Homo sapiens: one gene and its partners. The protein of the gene in region 4 interacts with the protein of the main gene of each other region in a biochemical or structural test. Each region holds a gene or a part of one and is shown on either strand. Other genes may lie near its edges. The genes, in order: RANBP2, RARA, PIAS4 and TOP2B.

Region 1 (7,754 bases), on a different chromosome or scaffold from region 4:
GGCTGAGGCGGGCGGATCATGAGGTCAGGAGATCGAGACTATCCTGGCTAACACGGTGAAACCCCGTCTCTACTAAAAATACTAAAAAATTAGCCGGGTGTGGTGGCGGGTGCCTGTAGTCCCAGCTACAGGCTGGGGCAGGAGAATGGTGTGAACCCGGGAGGCAGAGTTTGCAGTGAGCCGAGATCGCGCCACTGCACTCCAGCCTGGACGATAGAGCGAGTCTCCGTCTCAAAAAAAAAAAAAAGAAAAGAAAATGTCTAAAATGGGAGAAAGGAAATTAAAAATAACAAAAGTATATATGTGTGTTACTCAGAAGTATGAAGTATAGCTGTAAAGGGCAGAAAAAACAACTAACAGCTGTCAAAGGTGCCTGCCTGTAGTCCTAAGTACTCAGGAAACAGAGGTAGGTGGATCATTTACGCCCAAAAATTTGATGGCAGCCTGGGCAACACAGCAAGACCCTATTCTAAAAAACAAATAAATAAAAATAAGAGCTGTCAAGTAGACTTTGAGAAGTAGGAATCAGCTGCAGAATAAGAAATCAACTTGACAGAACATAGAAAAACTAAACAGAAGCCATCTGGAAAAAGAAAAACTAGAGAAAGAATTATATTTTTTTTTCTTTTTTTCTTTTTTGGAGACAGAGTCTCGCTCTGTCACACAGGCTGGAGTGCAGTGGTGCAATCTCTGCTCACCACAACCTCTGCCTCCAGGGTTCAAGCAATTCTCCTGTCTCAGCCTACCGAGTAGGTGGGACTACAGGCGCTGCCACCACGCCCGGCTCATTTTTGTATTTTTAATAGAGACGGATTTTCACCATATTGGTCAGGCTGGTCTCTCGGCCTCCCAAAGTGCTCAGATTACAGACGAAGAATATTTTTAAGGGCAAAAGCACATGTGAGGGAGTAGAAAAATGGCAAAACAAGAGAAGACTAACAAATGAAAGCACAATGAAAGACTAGAAAGATATGATATACAGACGCATCATCACACTCCAAAACTCCGACATTCTAGAAAGCATGGGCAGTTCACAGATGGCCAGCCTCTGCCAAACTGGGGGAGAATACTAACCTCTTCATATTCTTCACAGCCACTGCCTCTTCTCCCTCCATTCTTTACCTTCTATCCAAAGCACCCTGTTTTGTCATTTCACTCAAACCTAACTTTACAGAATAGCTTCACATGTTCCAAAGTTACTCACTAGTTAATCCATATTCCGCTGAAATCCCCAGGTTCTAATGTAAATGACTTTAAATTTGGGGGAAAAAAAAGACTCTAAGTGTAAGAGAGGTGTCATAATAACCAATCCTCAAAATTCTGCCACCACTCCACTTTATTTAATGGAGAAGTTATGTAGTTGAAAGAACATTCTAACTTCTGTCTAGACCAGTGGTTTTTAATCTTTTGGAAGCCAAGGTCCCCACTAAGAATCTCAGAAAGGCTCTAAGCTTGCTTTTTTTTTTTTTTAAGCTTGTTTAAAAAAAAAAAAATCAGGCTGAGCAGAGTGGCTCACACCTGTAATCTCAGCACTTGGGGCCAAGGCGGGAGGATCACTTGAGCCCAGGAGTTGGAGACCAGCCTGGGTAACATGATAAGACCCCGTCTCTACATTAAAGAAAAAAGCCGGGCATGGTGGCACATGCCTGTAGTCTCAGCTACCCAGGAGGCTAAGGTGGGAGGATGGATTGAGCCCAGGACGTCAACGCTGCAGTGAGCCACGATCCCGCCACAGCACTCCAGCCTGGGAGACAGAAAGAGACCTTGTCTCAAAAATAAAATAATGGCCGGTGCAGTGGCTCACGCCTATAATCCCAACACTTTGGGAAGTGGAGGCGGGGAAATCACTTGAGCCCAGGAGTTCAAGAACAGCCTGGGCAACATGGTGAAACCCAGTCTCTACCAAAAATACAAAACAAAACAAAACAGCGGGTGTGGTGGGTACACCTGTGGTCCCAACTACTCGGGAGACTGAGGTGGGAGCATCGCTTGAGCTGGGGAGGCGGAAGGTGCAGTGAGTCGAGATAGCGCCACTGCATCCAGCTGGGTGACAGAGTGAGACCCCACCTCAAAAAAAATAAAATAACACAAAAATTAAAGTCTTTAATTTCAGGAGTTACAGGAACCCTCAATTAAGGTCTGTTTTAGACTCTATCATCACATTCATATTTATACTATGCTAGCAGTTTGAAATTACAATGTACAAGTAGATATCTATCCTCCTCCTCTGGAGGAATAGACTGTAACTTACTCCACTGTTCCCAAGAGAAACTAAATCAGACCCACTGCCAAAATTCTGCTGCACTATCTATTTGACCCTGAACAAGTATCTTAAATCTCTACAGGTCTCAATATCCACAGGGCTGCTGGAAGCGCAAAATAAGATAACCTATGCTTAGTTACGATAAGAGACACAATTATGCTACTATTATAATCATGGTCATCCGTGAGTTTCCGGGTTTTTTTTGTTTTTGTTTTTGTTTTTTTGGAGTCTCCCTCTGTCGCCCAGGCTGGAGTGCAGTAGCGCGATCTCGGCTCACTGGAACCTCCGCCTCCCGGGTTCAAGCGACTCTCCTGCCTCAGCCTCCCGGGTAGCTGGGACTACAGGCATGCGCCACCACGCCCGGCTAACTTTTTTTGTATTTTTAGTAGAGACGAGGTATCAACATGTTAGCCAGGCTGGTCACGAACTCCTGACCTCAGGCAATCCGCCCTCCTCGGCCTCCCAAAGTGGTGGGATTACAGGCGTGAGCCACTGCGCCCCGCCAATATCCTTTTAACATCAACAATAAAAAGTGACTTGTAGCTAACATTTAGTGCTATGTGTCAAGCAATACCCTAAATGTTTAAAATGGATCATCCTATCAAATTCTATTAATGTTACAACTCCATCTATGGATGAAAAGTGTAACTGGCCCCAAATACCCAGCTTATAAACGACAGTGCTGTGATTATTCAAGCCAAAGCAAACTGACTCAAGATTCTGCGCACATCCACCTTTAATAGCTTCTTCCGTCACTCTTTAGATCCAATTACTAAAGTCTTATTGAATCCAAAATAGATCACATTATTTACATGTAAAGAGGAAAAATACCCTTAAAACATTTGTGGAAAAGGTTAAAAATTGCAAGCCATACTAACGATTTGTAAGAACTTTAGAATTTTTTTTTTTTAAGCAAAGGCAGCTACCAAAGTGTTCCGGGCGGGGAGGGGGGCGAGGGAGGTGAGTATGAGGAGCGGAGTGGAGCTGGACCCTTACAAAGGGACAGCGACAAACACCTCATACTCAAAACAAGGGGACTTTCAGTGTCATTTGCGCCGTCGGGCCATTGCAAATGTCCGCGCTGAGATGCCTACCTTGTCACTCGACGCAGCCGCCAAAGCTCACCCGGAGCTGCGTCAGTCCCCACTGGGTTCCTCCAGGCCAAGGAGGTACGACCTCCGCCGCAGCATATAAAGTATATGTCCAGGAGATGGGAAGAAACCCGCCGATACAGCACCCGGGTGCCCAAGCCCCCGAGAACTAGGCCGCGCGGGTACTACGGGGTGCGCGATCGGCCAGAAAGCCCGGGCCAGGGCGGCCCCAGGAGCGAGCACCGTCGGGAACAAGCGTCGGGAACAAGCCGGGAGAAAGAGGAAGCGCCGGCGCCAAAGGTCTCCCGCCCACCGCTGTCCCCCCAGGACTCTTCATGCGCTTGCAAGCGCCACGCCGCCCACAGGACTGCGCCAGCCGGCCGGCGCCTCAACAGAGCGCGCCAGGGAGCAGCGCCCGTCGGGAGCCATGACGCCTGAGCAGCGCGAGGCCGCCGCCCGGCCAGGTCGAGGCCGTCGGTCTCTTCGAGACCCACTCACCTGTCGAGGCGACGGGGTGGAGCCCTGCACCGAGGCGATGTACCGCTCCACGTCAGCCTTGCTGCGCCTCATCGCGCCGCCAACCTGGCTCCCGAGGCGCGTGAGACCAGCGCTCAGGCCCGCAGCAGTCGCCACTTCCAAGAGGAAAGCGCCTGCAAACCAGTGACGCAGCGCCGTAGCCGGCGGAGGACCACTGTGACGAACTTGCGGCGCAGCCGGCGGAGGACCACTGTGACGAACTTGCGTACTGCGTCAGCAGTGTGCGCCACGTTGGCGACGTCGGCGCTCGAGCTGCACTCGGCCAGGCTCTTGGCAGCGCCGCGTGCTCTGAGGGTGTCTTGGCAAGCCGGGATCAGATTTCGGCCGCCAGTGTCCACAGCCTAGGGCGTAGATTTCCAGCAGATAACAATTTGCGTGATGGGCTCTTAAGCGTTTTGGTCACTTGTTCTAAATTATAAGTGCGCAATGCATTGGAAGAAAAAAAGCACTCAGGCCAATTTGGTGAACGTGTAAATTGGAACAAAGTTTCTGGAGATGACTGGTTAAATACGTTGCATCGGACATGTGTGAATACTAAAGCATACATTTTTAAATTCATATCTTATTAAATGAGGGCCAGGCGTGGTGGCTCACGCCTGTAATCCCAGCACTTTGAGAGGCCACGGCGGGCGGATCATGAGGTCAGGAAATCGAGACCATCCTGGCTAGCACAGGGAAACCCCATCTCTACCAAAAATACAAAAAATTAGCCGGCCGTGGTGTCGGACGCCTGTAGTCCCAGCTACTCCGGAGGCTAAGGCAGGAGAATCGCTTGAACCCGGGAGGCGGAGGTTGCAGTGAGCCGAGATTGCGCCGTCTGGGCGACAGAGGGAGACTCCGTCTGAATTTAAAAAAAAAAAAAAAGGGAGATTTAGAACTGCATAATGAAAAAGACCACAAATATTAAGTTTTGGACAATTACAATTTTTTAAACAGTCATCTCGGCGGGGGATTGGTTCCAGAACCACCGTCTTATGCCAAAATCCACGCATTCCGCCGGGCGCTGTGGTTCACGCCTGTAATCCCAGCACTTTGGGAGGCCGAGGCGGGCGGATCACCTGAGGTCAGGAGTTCGAAACCAGCCTGGCCAACATGGCGAAAGCCCATCTCTACTAAAAATACAAAAAATTACCTGGGCGTGGAGGTGGGCCCCTATAATCCCAGCTACTCGGGAGGCTGAGGCACGAGAATCGCTTGAAACTGAGAGGCGAGGGTTACAGTGAGCTGAGATCGCGCCACTGCACTCAAGCCTGGGCGAGAGTAAGACTTCCTAAAAAAAAAAAGAAGAAGAAGAAGTCCGCGCATTCTCAAATCCCGCAGTCAGTCCTGCGGGTGGAACACTTAGAGGAAAAGTCAGACCTCTCTATATGCAGGCCCCTCCAATACTGTATTTTCTGTCGGCTTATAAGCGGGCCCAGGCAGTTCAAACCCATGTTATTCAAGGGTCAACTGTGTATATAGGAATAGCCATTCGCCTGGCACAGTGGCTTAAGCTGGTAGCCCCAGCACTTTGGGAGGTCGAGGCGGGAGGATCCCTCGAGTCCAGGAGTTCCAGGTTACAATGAACTGTGATAGCGCCACTGCATTCCATCCTGGGCACCAGAGTGAGACCCTTGTCTCAAAAAAAAAAAAAAAAAGGAAAAGGAATAGCCCCCCCAAATCTATATATATTTCACTAGCAGAATAACAGAACATACCAAAATTTAACAGTAATAATGTAAAGATTTTGAGCCGTCTGTATTTTCCAAATCTTCAAAAATGTCTATTTTGGGAATTTGGATATTAAAATCTTACTTTTAAAACAAAATTTAACAAAACATTTTTAATAGTGAGAACCTTTTAGATTTTAAAAGCTCACATTTGTGTAAACATTACAGTCTGAATTATGTGGACAAATATCAAATGCGTTGACATTTTTAACTGGAAATTTGGGCTATTTTGGTTGTGGATAATTTTTTATCCTTTTTGTTTTTCCATATTTTCTAAATTTTGATATAATGAACAAGTATTGCCTTTCTAAAAAAGGAAAAACAGCATTTTGTTTTATTTCAACAATATTGGATGTGAATAAAAGAAAAGAAAAAGATGATTCTGAGCTTACCAGTGTGTGTGACCCACATTAACAGAAATGACATGTAAAGAAAATCTAGTTTGGAGTGGAAAATCCTATTTTAGGTAGTTGATTTCTTTCACTTGAGGTACCATTTATATATCCATGTGGGGATAGCCTAGTAGGAAGATGAAATGGTAGGACAGAGATCTTGATGGAAGTCAGTAGTTGCGGCACAGTTCTGAGGCCCAGCTACTCCAAAGGCAGAGGGGGAAACATCCCTTTAGCCCAGGATTGGAGACTGCAATGAGTTATGTTCATGCCTTTGCACTCCAGCCTGTGGAAGAGAATGAGATTCCTATCTCTAAAACGAAAAGAGGGCCAGGCACGATGGCTCACGCCTGTAATCCCAGCACACTGGGAGGCCCAGATGGGCTGATTGCTTGAGGCCAGGAGTTCAAGGCCAGCCTGGCCAACGTGTTGAAACCCTATCTCTACTAAAAATGCAAAAATTAACTGGGTATGGTGGTGCATGCCTGTAATCCCAGCTTCTTTGGATGGCTGAGGCACCTGAATTGCTTGAACCTGGGAGGTGGAGGTTGCAGTGAGCTGAGATCGTGCCAGTGCACTCTAGCCTGGGCAACAGAGCAGACTCTGTCTCAAAATAATAATAATAATAATATTTAATTAATTTAAAAATAAAAACCAAAAGAGAAGATCTGATGGACTTAAAAGTCATATATCTCAGGTGATAGGTGAAACCACAAGTTTGCCTTGAAAAGTGTGTTGATAACAATAGCCATAGCTAACAAGTACTTGCTGTGTTCCAAAGCTCTTTCTGTTAGCACTTCATTTGTATTAATATCATTCTTCCACCAACTTTGTAAGGGTACTGTTATTATCCTCAGTTTTTACAGATAAGGAAAGCAAAAGACAGCCAGGCACCATGGCTCATGCCTGTAATCCAAAACTTTGGGAGGCTGAGGTGGGAGGATCACTTGAGCCCAGTAGTTCAAGACCTGCCTGGGCAACATAGCAACACCCTGTGCTTACAAAAAAAAAGAAATTAAAAACTAGCCAGGCATGGTGGTGCCTGCCAGTAGTCCCAGCTATTTGGGAGACTGAAGCAGGAGGATCTCTTGAGGCTAGGTGTTGGAGGCTGCAGTGAGCTATGTTCACTCCACTGCACTCCAGCTTAGGTGACAGAGAAAGACCCTGTCTCCAAAAAAAAAAAAAAAAAAAGGAAACCAAGAGAATGAGCACTGAAGCAACTTGCCCAAACATACTCACCTAGTAAAAATGGTATCATTAATCCATTTATGTTGAATATATCGAAAAGGAGTGCCCAAAGAGAGAACCTTCTTTTTCCTTCTTTCTTTTTTTTTTTTTTTTGAGACGGAGTTTCACTCTGTGGTCCAGGTTGGACTGCAGTGGCACAATCTCGGCTCACTGCAACCTCTGCCTCCCAGGTTCAAGCAATTCTTGTGCCTCAGCCTCCTGAGTAGCTGGGATTACAGGTACATGCCATCACACCCGGGTTATTGTTGTATTTTTAGTAGAGACGGGGTTTCACCGTGTTGGACAGGCTGGTCTTGAACTCCTGGCCTCCAGTGATCCATCTGCCTCGGCCTCCCAAAGTGCTCGGATACAGGTGCCCGGCATCCACCGCGCCCAGCATCCAAAGAGAGAATCTTCTTGAGGAACTCAAAAGACTTTTCTCTTTTGGATAAGCAGTTCATATTTCTGCATTTATTAGGGATTTTCACATTTTACTTCATTTTACACTACATTTTTTTTTTGTTCAGTGGTATAA
Region 2 (7,250 bases), on a different chromosome or scaffold from region 4:
AGATCCCAGGCAGTGCTCCCAAATATTAATAGACCCCACAGAGGTCAAAAGAAACCACCCCTCCAGCCTAGCCTAAGTCCTGTCCTGCCCATGCTTCCAAGAGGACTGGAAACTGGGCATTGGGGTTTGTATTTTGGGACAGGCCCCACCGTCACATCACACGGTTCTGAGGACCATCCCACCTGAGACTGGAGTCTGAGCAAGGAGTGGCCTGGAAGAAAAGGTCCCAGAGGGCAGAGTCAGCTTCCAAGACTAAATGGTTTAGGGGAAGGGGCGCGCATTAGCTGGGGTCTGGGTGAATGTCCCCAAAACAGACCTGAGGGGCCACTCAGACAATGTCCTCTCCCCCATACTTAGATGGGGTGGCAGGAACCACGTCATGGCATGTGTGGGTGACTGTGCCCAGCGGGGGAGGCACATGGGTGATCAGGATGGGGCTGCCCACAGCTGGCTTCCTGCCAGGCTGCCTCAAGGTTGGGAGTAGGAAGGGGACTAAAAAGGTGTCCCAGGGTGGCAGCCGGTGCATTTAGGGTCAGACTGAAGGGATAGAGATTTAGGGGCTATAGGAAGGAGGATGTGGCCAGGATTAAGCCATTTCAACCCCAGGATCTTCTCAGAACTGCCACTGCATCTGTGCCACCGTCGCCAGTCTGATGGTGAAACCCCTGCAGTGACACCTCATATACACTCAATCACACCCTCAAAATCCTTGCAAATCCAAGATCCTCAGCTCCCAAGAGGCTACTCCAGTCTGACCCTCCTGACCTCTCTTTCAGGACACCACATGGTCCAGACTCCCAGGCAGTACTGATGTCCCAGCTCCCTCCAGCATACCATTTTTCACAGCCACAAACTCCCTGACTCCACAACCACCCCCTCTTATTCCTCCAGGAAGAAGCATCATACAACCAACTCCAAATATTTTTTCTCTTGTTCCTTCCCCCAGCCTCATCTCTACCCGCCCCCCCCGGCCCCCTCCAGGGGAAGCCCCAAGGCTCCAAGCCACCCCCACTCCAACCCGGGGCTTCCCCGGCACAGCCTCTTCATGGAGCCCTGTAGGAGAGTTTGGGGCCTGAGGTCCAATTTCCTAGCAAGACCTGGAAGGTCCTTACAGAACCACTTCCCCCAAAACAATCTTGCCCTATGAAGACTGCAACCAGAGAAGGGTATAAGAGACATCCCAGAATGTCTTGGCCAGGAAACTGAGGAGGGGGAGTGTCAGGGGCAGAAGTGATCCTTGGGGTAAGCAGCAGGGGGTGGGGGGGTCGGGGGGTGTTCTCAGAAACAATCCTTTCCAAGAATATCTACATACACATATGTGCACACAGCCATCAGACAGAAGGCAACCTGGTTACAGAAGACAGAGCCAGAGGGGGCAGGAGGTACCCTTCCAGGCCATCACACTGGGCATCTGATCCAAGACAGGATGGAGGGTGCAGAAACATCTCCAAGGCTGGGGAGCTCTTCTGTCTGGTTTCCGGGTTAGTTGGTCCCCATCCCCACCCTAGCACACTGGAGGCCTGTCTTTCCTTTCGCAAGGAGCAGCCTGACAATAGGCCAGTGCCCAGAGAGGAGATGAGGGGACATAGCCAAGCTCATTTCCCAGCCGTCCCCCCAACCCCACAACAGGCTCACACACACATCTGGCCAGCAGCTTCCAAGCCTCGTGGGTGGCACCAGGTCCCAGACACCCTCAGCAGAGCAAAGTCGACAAGTCAGTCTATTCCGTCTTCCCCTCACCCCAAAAAGTTCCCACACCCCATGGTGGCACAAGACCCAGGAACACCCCTACACACATACTGCATTGGCTCCCGCACCCAATTCTGACGGTTCCCCTCACTCCACGGGGGACACCAGCTGAACCGGCCCGGCCCCCGGCCGGCTCCCTCTGGTGGGAGTGGGCCCCCTGGCTGATTCTCCCCAAACCACAGGGCAGCTCAGATAACAGGAGGGAAAAAGAGAGGGGGCTAGTCCGTTGAGCATCCGATCTCTCCCCAAACAGGTTTGAATTCAAGTCTTTTTGTTTTGCTTATCATTAAAGAGAAAAAGAACAGAAGTTCCCAGCGGCGGTTCTGCAACAGCTCGAGCGCGGGGGACACGCGCAGCAGACGGCCCCAGACGCCTCAAGGCTGCGCGCGAAGACACGGCGCAGGCAGACTCACAGACGGGGCTCCCCCACCCTGGACACGGCGGCAGCGAGTTGGGAAGCCCAGGAAACCCCGGGTTCCCGTCGGAAGCCTCCCGGTACCCAGTCCCCTCCCGCAGCACCAATCTGGGGCAGGACATGGGGCCCCGACGCCTGCGGGAACCAGGGGCTCCCCAAAATCCCCAGGGGAGGAATTACCTCGCAGCGGGGGAAGCAACCCGTTCGGGGTGCCAGCGAGCACAGCGTCTGCCCTAACCCGGCGCCCTGGTGCTGCTCGGCATCAGGGTGCGGGGTCCCGGGAGAGGAGCCGTCCAGGGGGCCGCGGCTCAGGGGCGCGGGGCGATGGCAGCGGCCATAGCGAGTCACGTGCGGAGGCTGAAACTTTACCCGGAGCCCCAGACTGAAGGGGCGGAGGGTACGGAGCAGAGGTAGGGGGAGGCCCTGTCCCTCAGGCCCGCCCCTGCCCGCCCACCGACCAATCACCAGTCAGGGGCGGATCTACAGGCTCACGCCCGCCCCCGCCTCTCCTTAATAGACCTCGGGAAGGGCGAGTCTTAAAGGAGCCACTCCTAGTTGAAGACTGGACCGTGGGAATCCGGGAGAATCCCTCCCTCAGACCCAGAACCGAAGATTCAGAGCAAGAACGGGGTGAGGTTCTGCGGAAAGAATGAAAATAGCGCTCGGTGGAGAAGACCGCAGCGTGTGGTATCCTACACTCCTTTCCCCCCAACCACACACACACCCACACCTAAATCTGAGAAGTGAGGCGGCGGCGTAATATGGAAGTGAGTGCGGTGACTCCTGCCCTAGCTGTCAAGCCCCTGAATCCTATAATTATAATCCTCTTCTAGGGACCAGCTGGAACTGAGAGCTGTGTGACCTTGACCAAGTCACTTCCCTTCCCTGGATCTTAATTATCTCAGCTGCAAGAAAAAGAAAAAAAAAAAAAGAGTCCAGGAGTAGATCTCCCGCAAGTATATCTCTTCTTTCCCCAAACACCTCTGCAGCTCCAGTGGGTCCTAGGAACCCTGGCTCAACCCAACCCTCCCAGCCCCCTTAAAGTACTCTTCTCCTCAAAGGGCAAGACTTTTGGATCTTCCAGTAGGGGCGCCCAGGAGCACCCCTCCGTGCTCAAAGACTCACACTCAAGCTTCTCTCTCCCGAACAAGTCTGGAGAAGCCAGGAAAGCTCTTTTTCATGTTCCAGCTGGACAGGATCTGAATCACCCTCCATCTGAGAGACCCCCAGTCCCCAATACAGTCATGACCCCCCTCCCAGCCTGCAGCTCTGTTTGGGAGGATCCTGTCCCCATCGCTAGCAGTCCACTGGCGGGCTTAGGGGGAAGCAGAATTGCTTAGAATACTCCCCTCTCGCCCTGTTCCCAGGCAGAGAAGTGGCCACAAGTGCCCCCACAGAACTTCCCACTGGAAGGGGAAGTGCTGCACTCCCAGGCCTCCAGCCCAGTGAGGAGACTCTCAGCCTGACCCGGTGGCAGAGCTCTCAAACCCACTGGTCCGACGGACCCCGCTTTACAAACAAGGAAAGAGAGTCCAAGAGCAGGCACTGGGTTTTGTGCACAGTCGCACCGGTTGCAGAGCCGGGTCTAGAATTGAAGTATCTGATTGTCCCTGGCTTTAGCCCAAGAGCCATGGTAAGGTAGGACAAGCCAGGATGGCGGGACCCTTTGCCCTGAGGGCCGGCGCACGGGAAACTGCCCCAGCAGTGCTGGGCCGCGCTTCCCCAGGCCCCTTCCCGCCTGCTGGGCCGGAGCTGTCTCCCGCTCCCGTCTGGATTTCCGTCCGCCGGTGCGAACCTCCCGCCCAGCCCCTCCCGCCCTGTCCTGTCCAGATTCATCCGCAAACATGCGCTCAGCCGGCAGGAATGCGCCAATGGCTCCCAGATGTGGACGCCACCGCTTAACCCCTTACCCCCCAGCCGCGCTCCCCCAAGGGCCTTCCAGCCTGAGCCCCGCCAACAGCAGGGAGCTCTGCCCAGGTGAGAACCAGCCCAGGACTGGAGTCAGCGCCAGCCCGCCCCTAGTGCCCACGGACACCTCCCAACCTAGATCCTACCTGTCTTCCTTCCTTGAGGCTGGAGGGGAAGGCTCATGGACACAAGAATGCAAGCATGCATGCACACAGCTACACTGCCTCCCAAGTGGGACGACCTTCAGGTACACCTGCCATCATAGGGTCAGGCATCCTGGTACAAATGCATTTCCACGTGCACATTCAGGGCAGGGATGTGTACATCCCCGACGCATGTATGCACATCCACGCATGAACAAGTACATCCAAACACATTTGTGCACAGACAAGGGCATGAAGCAGAGGGTGGGGCACACTTCTGCACAGACACAGAAGTAGCCCCATGTGTGGATGAGGGAAGAAATTCATACACACAAACCCACCCCCCGCAGGGGTCAGACACTCAAACAAGACCAGCACCCGTGTGTACAAACACAAAGCATGCACATCTTTGGGGCATTTCCTTCCTGTCCAGGGAAACCAGTACCACCTGTCCAAGGCCCAGCCCTACCCAAGCTTGACTGCAGAAGGCAGGAGAGGTCCCCAGGTGGGGGACCAGGAGTCTTCAATCTGCAGCAGCAGTTGAACTCCAGCTATGCTGGGCTCATAACAGGGCTTCCACCACCCCCTCCCACCAGGGACTCTGATGCAGGAGGAGAGAAGGGTACCCAGGGAGCAGCAGGAAACTAGCAGAGAGAGAAAAGCCACAGGCTCGGGGCGCCTCACTCTAAGAAGGACACTCCTTGGGGCCTACTGTTTCCCTGCACACAGGAGATAGGCTGGGGGAGGAGTCTGAGCCCCATCCCTCTTCAAACTAGAGGAAGTGAAGGAAGAGAGTCTGGACAGGTACCAGGGCCAGTGGCAGTTCTCAGTAGTCAAAAGAGATAAAATATAGCTCTGAGACACCCTAGGAGGGCCCACACTTCTAGTACAACAAGGCTGTCTTCTCACAGCCTGTGGAAACTCCTGAAGAACAGCATTAAGTGATACTCCGAAGAGATGATGAGAAGCAATTGGCCCTCCAAGACCATGGTGCGGGAGTTTGTTGGAACCAGCTCCAGCTGACTCCTCTTCCCCTCCCAAGCCTCCTAGCTCATCCCAAAAGGAGCTCCTCCCACAAGTACCTTAATAGTCCCACTCCATTTGATTCTCACAGTCCTGAAGGGGCAGGCTCCTGTTGCCATTGTAGAGATGAAAAAACTGAGGCTCAAAAAGAAAATTGCCTTCCTCAACGTCATACAGCTTGTCAATGGCAGGGCTGGGATTCAAACCCAGGCCAGGTATGGTGGCTCACACCTTTAATTCTAGCACTTTGGGAGGCCAAGATGGGACGCCAGGAGTTGCTTGACTCCAGGAGTTCAAGACCTGTCTGGGCAACATAGCAAGACCCTGTGTCTTTTTTGTTAAAATAAATAAATATATACGTGTGTGTGTGTGTGTGTGTGTGTATATATATATATATATATATATATATATATATATATATACACATATAAGCATATATATATATATATATATACATATAACCCAATCAATGTTCCCTCCTCAACTCTTTCCTCCCCTACTTACTCCAAATCAAACATGTATGACTCCACTCTGTGCCCTGCTACCTTTTCCTTCACCCCTTAGTGGATCACAAGGGAGAAGCGCCATCCTTGCCTGGCTCTGCAGGTTTATGGGTGGGGCCAGGACATGCCAGAGAGAGATCAGAGAAGACACTGGGGGCTGCACACATAGCCCTCCACCCCCACCACAAGCCTGGTGCCCACCTGCCTAGCAGGCATGGCTGGGTGACTCAGCTGCATCCGGGGGAGATGCCAGGGCAGTGACTCACCTACCGAGAAGAGCTGAGCCTGGCACCTTGCCAGCCCCAGGACAGAAGTGACTTAGTCACCACCAAGACTGTGATGCCCAGCAGGCACAGCCCAAGGATTGCAGACAGGGGCAGACTGTCCCTCCATGGTTACATGCGCCCCCTGGCAAAGAATGGGCCTCAGCATTCTGGGGCCAGCAATGTCTGTGCCAGCCCCTGCCCCCTCACCACTGCCCACCCCCACCACACCAGGCCCCGCTCCAGTGCCAACAAGTTTTGTGAGACCCCTGTGCTGCCCTGCCCCCACTGCAGCCTGCCCATCACTCACCACCCACTCTCCCACCTGCCCCACCTCCTCCTGCCACCCAAGTTGTACCCAGGCTGTGAGTCTCCTTTAACATGTCCTGGCAGCACTCCCTGCCCCCACAGCCCCTCTCACCCTCTCCCCTCATATACACATGCACTCAAACACACTTCTGCCAGCCTTGCTTCTGCCAGCAGCTGCTGAAGTTGTTGAGCAGGAGGGAAATTGGGAGGGTGGGGTGCAGGGATTGAGTTACCAGAGCTGATGGGGTGGGCTGTCACCCAATCCCTTCCCCAGCTCGTCCCCACCCCCACCCCACCCCTCCACCCGCCATATCCCTCACCCACCTGCCTCCCTCCCTACCTCTGGCTGGCAGCCTACTGCCCTTTAAGCCCGTCCACCCAAGCTAGAAAATAAATGTTCAAGAGTATTTGTCATGTTAAGACCAGCCTAGTATATGAGAGAGAATGAGACAGAGACCAACAGAAAGAATAATTCCTGTGCTCAGTGCTCTGGCTACAACCACTAAATATGTGTATGTTGAGCCAGAAGGGGACTGAGCAACTCCGCAAGTCCCAGAAGAGTTGGTGGGGCCCAAGGAGAGTTGACAGGCTAAACAGCCTCAATCCATTTGCACTATTGATTTCTCACACACTGCAGTAGGCTTGATGGGGGGTATGATAAATCAGCCCCCAAGAGACACAGAAACTGCGTAGAGAGAAGGGGAGGGGCTTCTGAACCACAATTGGTGGTGCACCATGACTTGCTTGGTGCGTTGGGGGTGGGCAGCAGAGGAATAGGAGATGTTGAGTGGCATGAGGCAGGGTAGGGGAGAGGGTGTTGGATTAAGGCCTGTCTGGAACACCTCCTTCCAGGTGGGTCTGAACTAATTTGAAGGAAGAAGGTGGGAGACAGATGCACCACGTGTGGCTACACAGGCAGGGCCTTGAACAACCCCAG
Region 3 (7,250 bases), on a different chromosome or scaffold from region 4:
CAATTAAAACCCACGAGAAGCCGGGTGCAGTGGCTCACGCCTGTAATCCCAGCACTTTGGGAGGCCGAGGCAGTCGGATCATGAGGTCAGGAGATAGAGACCATCCTGGCTAACATGGTGAAACCCCGTCTCTACTAAAAATACAAAAAATTAGCCGGGCGTGGTGGCAGGCGCCTGTGGTCCCAGCTACTCGGGAGGCTGAGGCAGGAGAATGGCGTGAACCTGGGAGGCGGAGCTTGCAGTGAGCTGAGATCCTGCCGCTGCACTCCAGCCCGGGCGACAGCGAGACTCCATTTCAAAAAAAAAAAAAAGAAAAAAGCCAGACTCCCTGGGCTCGGCTCCCAGCCCTGCCAGGGCCTCTGTGGCCTCAGCCTGCACGTCCCGCCCATGTTGACCTGTTTCTTCGGGGACCGGTGCCGGGTCTGTGGCTGGCCCTCAGGAAGAGGGGGCTGCCACAGCCGGTTCCCGTTTATATGCTCAGGGCACAGCCAGTCTCTGCAGAGGTGATGGGCTGTGGAGTCCCGGCTGGGCCCTTGAGGAAGGCCGCCTAATTGGGAGGGGGGCACACAGGCCACCTGCAGACGCGCCCAGGTCTGCCCTGAGTGCCAGGGGAGCAATGGTTCAGGGGCAGGGAGGCTGCACGGGAGCCTACACCTGAGCTGGGCCTTGAGCTTCCAGGCTGGGTCGGAGGTGAAAACACAGACACCCCACCCCTCAGTGTCTCAGAAGGAGGTAGGGGAGAAGGGTGGGTCCCCAGCAGGCAGCAAGGGAGCCACCCAGCTGGCCAGGGATTGTTGCCAGCCCATGCCTGGGGCAGACAGGGCCCAGTCATTGAAGAACAAGACTCTGGGGTCCCTGCCCTGGGAGGGCTCCTCCCTCTGGGGGAGACCGGGCTGTGCTTCTCTGCTGGGGGCCTGGGAGGTGCCCTGTGCTCTCACTGCTGTGCCACTGGCCCCGGGCCGCTGACGGTTCCCCCCAAACACCCGGCCCCCCTATGCTGGGGAAGGGGCTGTGGGGTCTCCCTCAAACCTGCCCTTCTGCCCTCGGGGTCAGCTGTTTGGGGCCAGAAACCCAGGTGGCATCCATGAAGCCCCCGTCTCTGCTGTCCTGCAAACATCCACTCCCTCAGCCAGTCCTGTCAGCTCTGTTTTCAAATCCCGCCCGGTGCAGACGACTGCCCCCAGCTCTGCCGGTCTCAGCAGCCAGAGCCCGCCCCCTGGGATGGCTCCGCAGGAGACCCCTGACCCTCAGTACCCCTGCTCAGGGCCACACACACCCCGGCGCACACACGGCCACCACCCTGGCCTCCTGCTTGGGCCCCACCAGCCATGCTGCATCAGGGCCTCCGCACCTGCCATTCCCTCTTCTGGAACCTTCCTCCCCCGACCAGCCTCATGGCCCTATATTTGTCTTTGTACAAATGTCACCAGAAGGAAAGCCTTCGCTGAGCACCCCATTTAAAAACCGCACCCCCCGCCACCTCACTTTTCTCCAAACCTTCTCCTCCTAAGGAGCGACTCAGTTTCCCTACATCACTCTGCTGCTCCTTCTTGTTGGGCCACTGAAGCATGAAGTTCCCCAAGGGGGAGATGGTTTCGTGGGCTGCCCAGCATCCAAGGCCACGGGACCAAGGCAAGGGCACCACTGAACCAGATGCACCTTTGGGGCCAGGTGCAAGATCAGGTGACCACGGGGGCCCTGCCAGGCAGAGCCGGTTCTGGGGTGAGGTGCTCAGCCAGGCCCTCCGGCCCGGGCACGAAAAGCAGCCCCTGGGCCCGATCCGAGAGCCCAACAAGAAGGGCCCAGCCGTTGGCTCCACCCAAGGCTGCCAGGGAGCCTCACGAGATGCTGCTGACGATGAATATTTAACGCTGTGAGCAGATGCTCACAGTATGGGGGGTGGTTATAAAATAGCAGCCAGGACACAGCCACACATTCCTACAATCACACATGCAAAGGGAGAAGGCGGCAAGCACCGGCCCGGTGTACCGAGGCGGCCCACTCGGGCAGCAGGGCGCCGGCCGGACTGCTCTGCTGTTGACTCCAGTTTTCTAGGACAAGCGCATAATTGTACAAGTTTAAATAGAAATGAAACACAGGGAGTTTTTAAAAGGCTGACTGGGGCCGGGCCTGGTGGCTCACGCCTATAATCCCAGCACTTTGGGAGGCCGAGGCAGGTGGATCACTTGAGGTTAGGAATTCAAGACAAGCCTGGTCAACATGACGAAACCCCGTCTCCATTAAAAATACAAAAAATGAGACTGGGCGCAGTGGCTCACGCCTGTAACCCCAGCACTTTGGGAGGCCAAGGTAGGTGGATCACCTGAAGTCAGGAGTTCAAGACTAGCCTGGTCAAGATGGTGAAACCTCGTCTCTACTAAAAGTACATAAAATTAGCTGGGTGTGGTGGTGCGTGCCTGTAATCTCAGTTACTTGGGAGGCTGAGGCAGGAGAATCGCTTGAAGCCAGGAGGCTGTAGTAAGCCAAGATCGCGCCACTGCACTCCAGCACGGGCGACAGTCAGACTCCATCTCAAAAAAAAAAAAAAAAAAAGCTGATCGGATGGGACCATTCCCCCTCCAGCTGGCCCATGTGCTGGCCCCCTCCCCAGGCTGTCCCCTCCCCGGCACATACAAGTTCTCTAACTCCCGGACCCACCCTGTCCAGCTAAGAGCTACCAGCACTGATTCCCCAACCCAGGTCCCCCAGATCAAGAGTAGAGGCAGCACAGTCAGGTATGAGGGACACAGGGGGCACTGTCCTGGAGGGGCGGGGAACAGGTGCCCCTGGCTAGGCACAGGGGTGATGCCGACCACTCTACCCATCAGTGAAAACATTCACAGGCTGCCATGGGAGGGGGACCAGTGGGCAGGAAGCAGAGCAGGAGGCTGCAGCCAGCGGGCAGGTTGGGGAGCTGGGCTGGGCAGGGCAGGGGGCCACAGGGGATGGGAGAAGGACTAGCGGGACATGGGGGTGGCTGCTGGCAGCCCCCCATCTGGTAGCAGTGGGCCCATCCCTCCTCTTCAACCTGAAGGCCAAGACCTGGGGCAGAGCTGGCGGAGTCCCCCTGTTCCCCAACCACAGGTATGGGAAGTGCCAGCGGGCTGAGTGGGTCAGACTACCCCACATGTGGGACAGTGACACAGGACGCTCCGTGCCCATCCAGGCCCCCAGTGTGCAGACGGACAGATGGTGGGCCTGGGCGGGCAGCAGGCCTGGCTGTGGAAGGCAGACGGCCACTTGCCTCCTGCACTTCAGTTTCCTCACTGACCCCAAAAATCATACCAGAACCTCAGGGGCGCTGAAGCCCTCGGGGCAAGCAGGGTAGCCCCCAGCCTTCCCCGGGCCCACCATTCTCGGGTTCCAGCCTCTGCCGCCCGCGCCCAGGCTACTGCGTCCCTCCTCCTGGGCGCACCATGTTCTGGCCACAATGAACTCCATTCAGCCCCATGAATGAGCCCTCTCTGGCCATCGGCCTCTGCCCTCACTGCCCTCTGCCTGGAATACGCTCCCCTGCCCCCTCCTCTCTGCCTGGCTTCTTGAGAGTCACCCTCGGGTCTGGACTGAAACGCTGCTGCCTCCAGGAGGCCTTCCTGACTGCTACCTCCTCACAAATGTAGAGTAAATGGCTCCTGCTACTGACAGCTGCCCCTGAAAGCCCTCCGTGTGCCATGAGACTTATCACCTGGCACTTCTGTGCTGCACCTGAGCAGGGACCACGCTACCTTGCTGTGGCCTGGGCAATGCTGGCCCAAGGGCTTCAGAGGCTGAAGGGCACAGGTGCCTACACACAGCACAGCACATGCCAGACCGGCGGCTCTTGGCTGGTACCAGGGCTATCTGCCTCTGGGGGCATCTGGAGTCGTGGTGACAGGGGCTCCACTCTGCACAGCAGGCGGGTGGGCAGGCAGATTCCTCGGGGTGCCCGCTGCGGGCCAAGACCCTGGAGGAGCAGCTCTGTGCCCGGCCAGCATGTATCCTTCCTTCTGCCCCACATTTCCTGACAGCCTCTCTTCCCAAGTACCCTGACAGGAGGGTCAGGCTCCCTAGCCGGACTCCCCAGGTGGCGCAGGCTGGAAAGGGGTGGCGCCGGCTTCCTTGCCGACAGGCAGGACAGGGTTCCCAGCCTGCAGAGGTCCAGGCCAGAGCCTCTGCTCAGGAGCAGGAGCCAGTCGGCTCGGGAGGAGGGAAGGCAGGCCGCTGTGCGACCTTGGGCCGTTCTCCGCACTGTTCTGGGTGCCAGCCCCGTCCCCACACACGGCACCTCCCACTGGAGCCGATCACCTACAGCCTGAGGCCCCTGCAGCCTGCTCTGTGGCTCTGTCACCCCCTCCCCCAGCCCAGCATTCCGCACCGCGTGATTTATGGCTCCTGTCCGCCTGGCGCGGTCTCCATCCTGGAGCCGGCCGGCGGCTATTCCGGGGAAACAGACCAGAGCGGTGGGCCTCACGCTGGACGGTGGGTCACAGCCAGAGGAGGGAGTGAGGGAGAAGCCGGTGGAACTGGGTCCTCCGGAGGCGGCCCCCGGGCAAGGCCAGCACCACAGAGTGCACCCTGGGGAGGGACACAGCCCAGGGTCAGGGCGGACAGATGGCATCTCAGGTCCTAAAACCATGGGGACCACTGCTTCGGGGCCAGGGGCTATGCTCCAGGAAACTTCTGAGGACCGAGGTGGCCCCCAGGGAGTCCCCCAAGAGCACGGAATCCAGGAAAGGAGGTTCACCTGGCGGCCTGAGATGGAGAGAGAGCCAGTGGGAGAGAGAGGCAGGGTGGGGATGGCCTCTTTGTTCTGAGCCGCCAGCACAGGCACACTGGTGTAGACAGGGGAGCAGGCTCTCCCGGAGATCAGGTGACCGGGGTCCCTGGTGGCTCAGGGCACAGCGATGTATTGTGGGACGGAGCTACTGGTCCCCGTGCAGGAAGGAAGCTGGTCAGCCCCGTCCCCCGCCCTGGACCAAGCCTGCCCTGCCGCTCCCAGGAAAGCCCAGCCTCCCTGTGATGCAGGTCCTTCCCAAGGCCCAACCTTCAGAGACAGCCAGCTCTGCCCAAGAACCTGGCAGGGGGAACAGCTTCCCTCATGAGAGAGCAAAGGCTGGGAAAGTCAGTCCGATGGAACTCAGGCCAAGACCCTGAGTCCCCCAGGACAGGTGCCACTGGGCCAACCTGCTCCCCAGGAGGCTGCTGCTAGACACCTCCTGCAAGAGAAAAAAGGTGGAGGCGGAGCCTCACTTGGAAGGCGGAGCCTCAGGCTGGAGGGAGGAGCCTCGGCTGCCGCAGGAACCACCGACAGCACCTTCCTCCCTCCTCCACTTCCTCCATCCTCACCTGGAAGCACAGCCCCTCCAGCCTAACCTCACTAAGTCCCAGGGCTGCAGATGGGAGGGGAAAAGCAGCCAGTTCCCCTTCCCCCTACCCCCATCAACGCTGCCTCCCTGGGCAGGGGAGCGGGGGCCAGCTGGCACCCAATGGACTGAAGCGTGCCAGAGAAGGGCCCTCAGGCCACAGCAGGGGCCAGGCAGGTTGCTGGGTCAGCAGGGTGGGAGGGGGCATGCACAGGGTTCTGAACCTCGTGGCCTTGGTCCTGTTCCCTGCTGCGTGCCCACGCCTGGTGCCCATCACGCACCCACCCAGCAGGCGCTCCGATGTTTACTGTGCGAAGGAAAGAGTGGGGGCAGGGGAGGGGAGGCAGGAAGAAGAGACGGAGAGACCTCCAGGCACACAGAGGACTTGGTGAAATCTGAGCGCCTCAAGGCACAGGTCCGCAAAGGCCCAGGACGTTCCGCTCCCTATCTGGGAGTCCCAGAGGCTGCACACTCTCTCTGCCCTGGGGGCTGGGGCTGCGGAGGCCTCCCTGGCCCTGAGCTCAGGGCTATGGCTGAGGCAGAGACTGGGCTCAATGCCCACCTGCAGCCTGAATGGCCACGGCTGCTGGGGAGGCACCAGGGGCCTGTCCACACTGCTGTGGGCTATGAGGTCCTGACACACAGTTCCTGCTCAGTCAGTGCTTGCAGACAAAGACACGAGAGAGAGAAGCGTGGAGCCCAGCACCTCTCCTCCGCCTGGGATCGCCCTGAACCCCCAGCACGCCCGGTGCACACAGCCTGGCAGTGACCTGAGCCCACTGACCAAGGACACTCCTGCAGGCTGCCAGCGAGGAACCAGAGCCCGGGGGAAGGATGCCACTGGCCAGCCCCCTTTCCAAGGGGAATAAGCAGGGAAACCAGGCTCCCAGGTGGCCCTGGTCACCCCTGGCCCTGGCAGTCACAGCCTGGTGTGGTCCCTGCATGCGCCACAGAGTCTGTGTGAGCAACGGACTCTGTGGGGGAGATGGCGAGGCGTGTCCGAGGTTGGGTTATAAAAAGGGCTCCAGCTCCCAGCTTGGAGGTGCACACTCGCTACCCTAGGGTGAGGGAGCCACCAGGCTGAGGACGCCCAGGCAATCCGTGCAGGAGTCCGCACCATGAGGACCTGGGGACTGTGGCCAAGAGCTGGCGAGGAGCTGAGGCCTGCCAGCCACCACACAAGGATGTGCCTGCTCCAGCCCTGGTCGAGCCTCCAGATGAGGTGGCTCCAGCCTGACTGAGCCTCATGAGAGCCCCCAAGCCCCAATGCCCCGCAACACAGCTCACAGGTTCCTGAGAGCTAACAGACGCCCCCTGCTTCCAGTGGCTCCATTTCGGGGTAACTTGTAACACAGCAAGGGGTGACCAATATCAAAGATGGTCCCTTTGCTTCCGAGGAAGGACACCCCTGGCCACTGTGGCTCCCCGCCCTGGCTGCGCCACAGAGAACATCACTCGAAGTCGGCTGTGTGGCTGGGCTGGGCTGGGCGACGGGGCCTAGGTGAAGCCTCCAGTCGCAGCCTCCCCAGGGTGACCACTCACCTAATTCGGTGGGCTTCAGCAGCTCATCCAGCATATTAAAGAACGGCAGCTTCACCAGGCGGACTTCTGGCTTGAGGGTCTTGGCGGGCAACCGTCCCAGTCCGTTTAAGTACTTTCCGTAGAGCACGGGGTAGTCAATATTGGGGCCTGCCAGCGGAGTCCTGGGCACAGCGCCGGCCCGGTCGTAGGTGGAGTGCATGGTCAGGGGGTCCAGGGGCCGGTGCGGCTGTGGGGCAGGCTCCGAGTTCTTCTTGGCGTAGCGGGTCTCGTACAGCTCCTTGATCTTCTTGAACAGCTCAGGGCTACAGTCAAACTGCACCAGCTGGAGGGCCCTGGTGACGAGCTCGTGCTTCAGTCCACTCTTAC
Region 4 (7,250 bases):
GGACCTGAGACATAGAAGATGACTGAATGGAAGAGGTCAATGTGGAAATCAACATAAAAAGGGATGCGGGGGAGCTGATGTCATTCATTTACCTAAAAGAAATAGTGTACTTCTGGAAAAGGGTCAGACTAATTGGAAAAATCAGCCACAGTCAAATGAATTCAATTAAAAAAAAAATCAAATTAGCCCTGGTCAAATAAATCCAAGTTAAAAGGAAACAGTCTTTAGTCTGAAAAATAATATTTTAGTCTGAAAGAGTCTAATATTTAGGTAGCATAACACTACTACAGTTCAGTGGATGAAATGGAAGGTTCTAAGTAGGTTAATTTATAGCACAGTTATTTAGGAAATAGTCCTGATTATATAAATTTATACTTGAATAATTTCTTAACCAAATACAAGCCCCATATTGATACGAGATGCTAGGTGGAAAGCTGTTCCAGGACTATAGTCATAAGCAAACTAAGTCACTTACAGATCTTTTTTTAAAAAGCCATGCACTAATATGCAATGATGTTCCCGGTTACCTTGCTTGTTGTTTTGGATGTTTTCCTGCCAGGGTTATAATCGCCTTCATTTTCAGAGCCAGATGCTTTCCTTTTCTTTGCCCCTCGGCCTTTACCTTAAAATGATACAAAAGGTTTTTTCTTCCGTGGTTAAGTGCAATATAAAAAGATAAATGCCACAACATTGTAGTTTATTTCTTTGGCATGCCCAATCAGTGGAGCATTGCAGTCCTGATCTCTTACTATGAGTGATTATAAACAATTTGGCAGTAGCATTTCAATTCTGGGGTTGACATGACCAAAGACTTTTTGACAAATACATTTAAACTAGTGGGAAAGTCCCAAAGACAAATTTTAATGATGAATCCCTTCATACATAAAACATTTGTATTTGCTATTTGGTCCTTGAGCCTGAAAAGGAAATATCTTGGAAGAGTACTTCTTAAATTACATGGGATTTAAATATTTTTTTTCATTTCTAATTTGTCATGGGCCAATACTTTTAAAAATACCATAGAACACAAATTACTAAAAAATGTAATCACATGCTGTTTTAGTAACACATTATTATAAAGGTCTAAATGTTTACTCCGTTTTACTTATCAAAGACTAGTAACAACCAATTGCATATCCCACATTAAGTGGCACCATATGAGAACCACCAGTATTAACTATAAAATGTCAAATACATATTCCTTCTCAGACCTAGACTCAGCACATGCAGCATTTTTTTTCACCTACCTAACCTCTTATTCTCATCATTGGAGGTGGAAGGAGAAAAGGTAATATTTAAGTAGGGGCCAGATGTTCTCCATCCCACAATGATGCCAATGAAATAAAACAACTAAATAGCAATTTTATATCTTTAAAATCCCTTGACAGCTAGACTGGACAAGTACGAAGATAGACTTAAATAATCTTGGGATGTCATATTTGATCAAATGAATCAGGGAAATAGCATTTTTGAATTTATAAAGGCTTTCAATCCTGCATATCTTGAGTACTACTTTCCCAGTCACTGTGATTCTTTTCCACCCTATTATCCCCATTTCCCTGTAGGTCTACAGCTCCTTATCCCAACCACTCCTTAAAGAAATATAAGAAACACACTGAGGAAGATATCCTTCAGTTGAATAAAAGGTAGAGCAGCTACCCTCACAGCATGAGCTACCCTCATATCATGTCTTACAAACATATTTTACAAAACATCTTCAAGGGCTTTCCAGATTCTGGAGTTAAAGAGGGGATGCCATGGAGAACTGGTGCTGTTCCTTGTGTGGCCCTGAATACAGTTATTTCTTAGGTGAGAAAAAAAGTTCTAGCCTAAGAGTCCTGGATCTAGCCCATTACTATAAGTGTCACAGTTAGTGTGGAGTACTGATCTGACTTTTTAATAACAACTTTCAGTGAGTTGGCTGCAGGGGAGAATTTGGACCATTCTTAGGGATTCTTATTTAACCTCTTTGAGCCTCAATTTTTTAATTTGTAAAACAAAGTGACTGAACTAAATTGCTATGCCTCCTTTGGACTATATTCAGCACTGATTCCTAGACACACTGCTTACTGAGGAGTAAAGCAATTTAAAACAAAATAGATACCTAGCCTCTCTAAATTCAATGAGGTAGAAAAAATTCAATCTTTTCCACACAGCATATGTTTAAAGGGTTATAAGAAGATAATCCTCACCTTTTGGTGTTGTAGTCTTCTTTGGAATGCCAAATTCTGAATCCGAGTCAGAGTTTACAGCCTCTACTACTTTCTTCTGTTTTGGGGCTCTCTTGGGCTTAGGGACTGTATCTGAAGACGGTTTTCCTAGTAAGCAAATTTCCATTTCACAGGTCAATATACTTACCAACAAACCAAACTGAAGAGAGTCCTATATAAATGGAATTTCTTATAGCTGATTAGAAACTGAGTTGCCTGGCTGGGCGTGGTGGCTCACACCTGTAATGCCAGCACTCTGGGAGGCCAAGGCGGGGTGGATCACCTGAGGTCAGCAGTTCAAGACCAGCCTGGCCAATACGGTAAAACCCCATCTCTACTAAAAATAAAAAAATTAGCCAGGTGTGGTGGCAGATGCCTGTAATCCCAGCTACTTGGGAGGCTGAGGCAGGACAATCGCTTGAACCCGGGAGGTCGCAGTGAGCTGAGATTGCGCCACTGCACTCCAGTTGAGCAACAAGAGCAAAACTCTATCTTCAAAAAAAAAAATTGAGTCGCCTTAAATAATGAAATGGTTTCTCTCTGCTTGGCGGCAATGTAAAGGCAAACAATTTCTCATAGATGACAAAATGCTTTTTATTTAATTATGTATAATTTGCCCTTAGGTAATACAATTAAGACATTTTAAGGAAGAGCCATTAAAATAAATTAAGCAGTAACTTTTAAATACAGAATAGTCATGACAAAAGAGTAGCATATTTGATAAATTAATTATAACCCAGATATAACCACAGATTAAGTCCTAACTTTTAGAATGTTTTAGAGAAAAAAATGTATGGGATCCTCGAATACAATGAATAGAAACCAACTCACTTCCATTCAAAAGCTGAAATCCAGACTTGGCATTTTTATGTGGAAAGAAATATAAAATCCTAGATAAGTAGACAATTGATACCAGGCCTTTGCTTTCTGGAATTTTGAAAAATAGACCTTGTTTTACAGCTTTATCTGCAGTTCTATGTGAAAACTGATAAATAAGGCCAGTTGCAGTGGCTTACACCTGTAATCCCAGAACTTTGGGAGGCCAAGGCAGGCGGATCACTGGAGGTCAGGAGTTCGAGACCAGCCTGCCCAACATGGTGAAACCCCATCTCTACTAAAAATACAAAAAATTAGCCCAGTGAGGTGGCGTGTGCCTGTAGTCGCAGCTACTTGGGAGGATGAGGCAGAGGAATCGCTTGAACCCAGGCAAGGGAGGTTGCCGTGAGCCAAGATCACGCTACTCCACTCTAGCCTTGGTGACAGAGCAAGACTCTGTCTCAAAAAAAAAAAAAGAAAAAGAAAAAAAAAAAACTGATAAATCACTTTTTGTAATTAAGAAAACCTAATTTGGAAGAAAATATATTAACTGTAGACTTTGTTTAAAAAAAAAAAAAAACCTACACTGATTCTATGGAAAATGTATTCCAGTCGCAATTTGAGACACTACAAATAAGGCCCCTCGTTAGCCAAGAGCAGGAGGAGCCCTAGGAAAGTGGCACCCAGATTGTGTGGCTTTTCCCACCTGAGTCTTCATGACTATATCTACCACAAGAACCACAGGGCAGCTCCTAGCAGGGAGTATAAACTTAGCCAGGTGTTCTAGGAACCACTTTTTTTCCTTGGCTTGGAGTTACATGGCACTTTCAATTCTACCAGGCAAACAGGTCAGATATCTGAGTACTATAGCTGCCTTTCTGCTGTAAACTATTGGAACTACAGAATTTAACTTGTGTAACATACGCAATTTGGAGTTAACATAGACAATCCCACAGAGGGATATGATGCATCCTCTTCTTGAAATGATATTTTATTGGAATTATATTTCGTAAGGGAGGCTAAAGGAAAGCTGAGGACTTGCTGGGGTCCCTGAAATCACACCACACAGGCAGTCTACCTATTCAACTTAGACAAGGCCAGTTCAGCTACTGAAGAAGGAAGCAAGTAGGATAGGTACCATGATAATCTAGCTTTTTGGTCATGCTAAACTCATTAGGTTAAATATGGGTGAACAGTTTGATGAAGGAAACGGGGTATGTTTCAGGAAGTAATACGGCTCCCAAGTTTTCAGGGTGTTTATAAGATGCTCATATGAAGATTATTTTTTAAAGGTGCTTTTTGATTGTTCTGTTGTTGTTATTTGAGATGGAGTCTCACTCTACCGTCCAGGCTGGAGTGCAGTGGTGCCATCTCAGCTCACTGCAACCTCTGCCTCCCAAGTTCAAGCGATTCTTGTGCCTCAGCTTCCTGAGTAGCTGGGACTACAGGCATGCATACGCCACCACACCAGGCTAATTTTTGTATTTTTAGTAGAGATGGGGTTTTGCCATGTTGGCCAGGCTGGTCTTAAACTCTTGACCTCAAGCAATCTGCCTGCCTCGACCTCCCAGAGTTCTGGGATTACAGGTGTGAGCCACTGCGCCCAGCCTGATTGTTTTTTTAAAAAAGAGAAATTATAGGGTCCATCTCAATGTGGGTTCCCCAGATTTGGGCCAATCTGCCTAATCCTAGAGTATGGATTCAAGTATAAGTATTTATTTGAGAGATAAAGGAGGGGGAGACAAAAATGAGACAATGAAGAGAAGGCAGCCAGTAATAGGTAAGTTACCAAGCCAATCATCACTCTAGGAGCTTAATTCCATAAGAAATTTTTGAGTCCCAGTGTGAAACACACATCCCACAGTTGGCTCACATGAGAGGCAAGGACACTGAGATATTTATAGACCAACTTTCCTCAATCTGCTAGTTAAAGGCAGCTGGGAGCAGGGGGGTGTTAATATTCCAGCACAGTGGCAAAGAGGAAGTCCTCAGGCAACGAAAGGCAGATATTGCCCAATATGCACTAAGTGGTAAGGGACATGGGTAGGTCACCCAGTGTGTTGGCTACAGAGACTCTTGTAAATAACCAGTTTCTCAATATGGTTCTACTGCATTCAGAATAAGCAGGACTTTTCAAAATTGTTGTTCTGCTACATTCAATACATGTGTCTGTAATGATGTTGTCTGTTGTGAATTTTTAAAATCCTTGAGGGAACAATCCATATTATTTACTTGCTGTCTTAAATAGCACACATCTCAATTAGATTTGTGGGGTTTTTTTTAAGTGTCATCCTTCAAACACAAAGCACAAATACTGACCTCTTTCAAAAAGACCACGGTACATATATCTTGGTACTAGTAAGAGATTCATTAATCAACTCAAAGTGTTTTGTGGCCAATCTAAGGCTGTGAAAAAGAGAGAAGCTGCATGACTCACATAGAAAAAGAGGACCTCAACTGAGCTGACCAATCCCTCCACATAAGGAGTTGAGTCATGATCAACATAGATAACAGAAGCAAGCTACTAGCAAGACAAAATTTTAATCTCCATTACAACCTAACCACAAGGGAGCTTTTGTAGAAAGCTATCTTTAGATAGTAATGCACGGGATTATTTTATAATTACAACAGCTTTAAAATTAAGTCTTACAGAAATTTTATTAACGCCCTCAGATGGCTAGAAAACGAGAGGTTCTCCTTATAAGCACTTATACTTCTTAATTGTTTTATGATAAAAAAATGCAAATAGTTTCAAATTAAATTACATTTCCTTTTACATTAACTATCTCTATCCAATGCTTAACTCAATCAAATATAAGTACATACCCTTTTTAGCAGCTACCGTTTTACTTGGAACTTTATCTGTCTGTTTCAGACCAAATGATGGTGAAAAAACAGAAGCAGAATCTTCTTCATTACTGTCAAATTTAGCTGAATCTAAAAATTGCAAAGCCTTCTTTTAGTAAAGAGATGTTATAAAGATCTCTCAGTAAACTTTGACTCTTTTAACTGATGACTTCCCTTTAGCTAGACAATTGATCTTATGTTACTATTTTGTGACCAAATAATCCACAATATACAAACAGCTAAAAATAAAATGTATCAGTTATACACCAAAAATGTTAACTATGTGGTGAAATAACACAGAAGTGCATAAAGTAGTAAAAATTAAAAGTCCCAAATGCTAAATATTTAAAACATAACTGACCAATTCAAAAATACATGCTGCCAATTTATTTTAAAATGAGATATGAAAATGTCCCACTGTATTATTTTAGTACCTACACAAATAATACTATTAACCATTTCAGGAATATCAGTAATAATGTTTAAATCTAAAAGAATAGTAAGTATTCCTATTTTTAAATAAATTTTTGAAGACTAATTTAAAAGGCAGACAGGCTTACCTTCAGTTTACTCTTGCACTCAAATTAGTGTAATGCGTTCTTCCCTAACACCATAGCACAAACTTTTAAAATAGCTACTTGGATGTAAATAAATATGTTTACACAACTCTTTTGACACACTGTCAAAAATGAGTACGTATACATATAGAATATGTACCAAATATGTCTAAATGTATAGATGTGTGTATTAAAAAATGATAGTGAATCAATTAAGTGACCTTAAAAATTCCATACACAAAAAAAATACGAAACAAGAAGTATACACACTGATTAAATTTGTTCTTATGACGGTTTTAATCTCTCAGGTAACAACCAATCTGCAATCACACTGGTGCCCTTACAGATTTAGAAAACTGTCGTATATACATTCACATTGCCATGAAAATCAAATTTCAAGCTTTCAAAATTTCATTATTTCTTTTCTCTCATTAAAACACTACACATACACTCACACCCATAAACACAGATAAGCATTTGCCTGTCCACCTAAATGCTTCCATAATGCCTATTTTGACCAATTAGTTAGGAATCACCTCAGAAAAAGTAAAGAAGCCTTATTATCTTGAGCAAAATATAAAAAGGAAGTTTTCTACTCATTAAAAATTCTGAAGTTAAATCATGACCTAACGATTTATTTACTGTTTTCTCTCCACCACTAAAAGCAATAATACAATAACCAATGAAAAGACTAAATGAACATACCATCTTCTGACTTCTGAGAATATGAAGGAAATGAGAAGAGATTTCCAAAATCCTGACTTTTTTTGTCATGCAAAGATTTTCTATTAGAAAGAAAATAAACACCACAGAGGATACA

Evidence for each region.
Region 1: of the proteins of TOP2B (region 4) and RANBP2, one has a biochemical effect on the other in vitro, tested with the Homo sapiens proteins (one study listed by BioGRID).
Region 2: the proteins of TOP2B (region 4) and RARA form a complex in vitro, tested with the Homo sapiens proteins (one study listed by BioGRID).
Region 3: of the proteins of TOP2B (region 4) and PIAS4, one has a biochemical effect on the other in vitro, tested with the Homo sapiens proteins (one study listed by BioGRID).

Annotation. Positions count from the first base shown.
Region 1 is NC_000002.12:108,715,777-108,723,530, reverse strand, and holds the start of RANBP2 (E3 SUMO-protein ligase RanBP2), read right to left. Parts: upstream 4,050-7,754; 5' UTR 3,925-4,049; coding exon 3,853-3,924; intron 1-3,852. UniProt on the Homo sapiens protein: E3 SUMO-protein ligase which facilitates SUMO1 and SUMO2 conjugation by UBE2I. Involved in transport factor (Ran-GTP, karyopherin)-mediated protein import via the F-G repeat-containing domain which acts as a docking site for substrates.
Region 2 is NC_000017.11:40,313,543-40,320,792, reverse strand, and holds part of RARA (retinoic acid receptor alpha), read right to left. Parts: intron 5,601-7,250; exon of another isoform or gene 2,042-5,600; intron 331-2,041; exon of another isoform or gene 1-330. UniProt on the Homo sapiens protein: Receptor for retinoic acid. Retinoic acid receptors bind as heterodimers to their target response elements in response to their ligands, all-trans or 9-cis retinoic acid, and regulate gene expression in various biological processes.
Region 3 is NC_000019.10:4,012,984-4,020,233, reverse strand, and holds part of PIAS4 (E3 SUMO-protein ligase PIAS4), read right to left. Parts: coding exon 6,885-7,250; intron 1-6,884.
Region 4 is NC_000003.12:25,598,908-25,606,157, forward strand, and holds part of TOP2B (DNA topoisomerase 2-beta), read right to left. Parts: intron 7,216-7,250; coding exon 7,136-7,215; intron 5,964-7,135; coding exon 5,853-5,963; intron 2,319-5,852; coding exon 2,193-2,318; intron 623-2,192; coding exon 528-622; intron 1-527. UniProt on the Homo sapiens protein: Key decatenating enzyme that alters DNA topology by binding to two double-stranded DNA molecules, generating a double-stranded break in one of the strands, passing the intact strand through the broken strand, and religating the broken strand.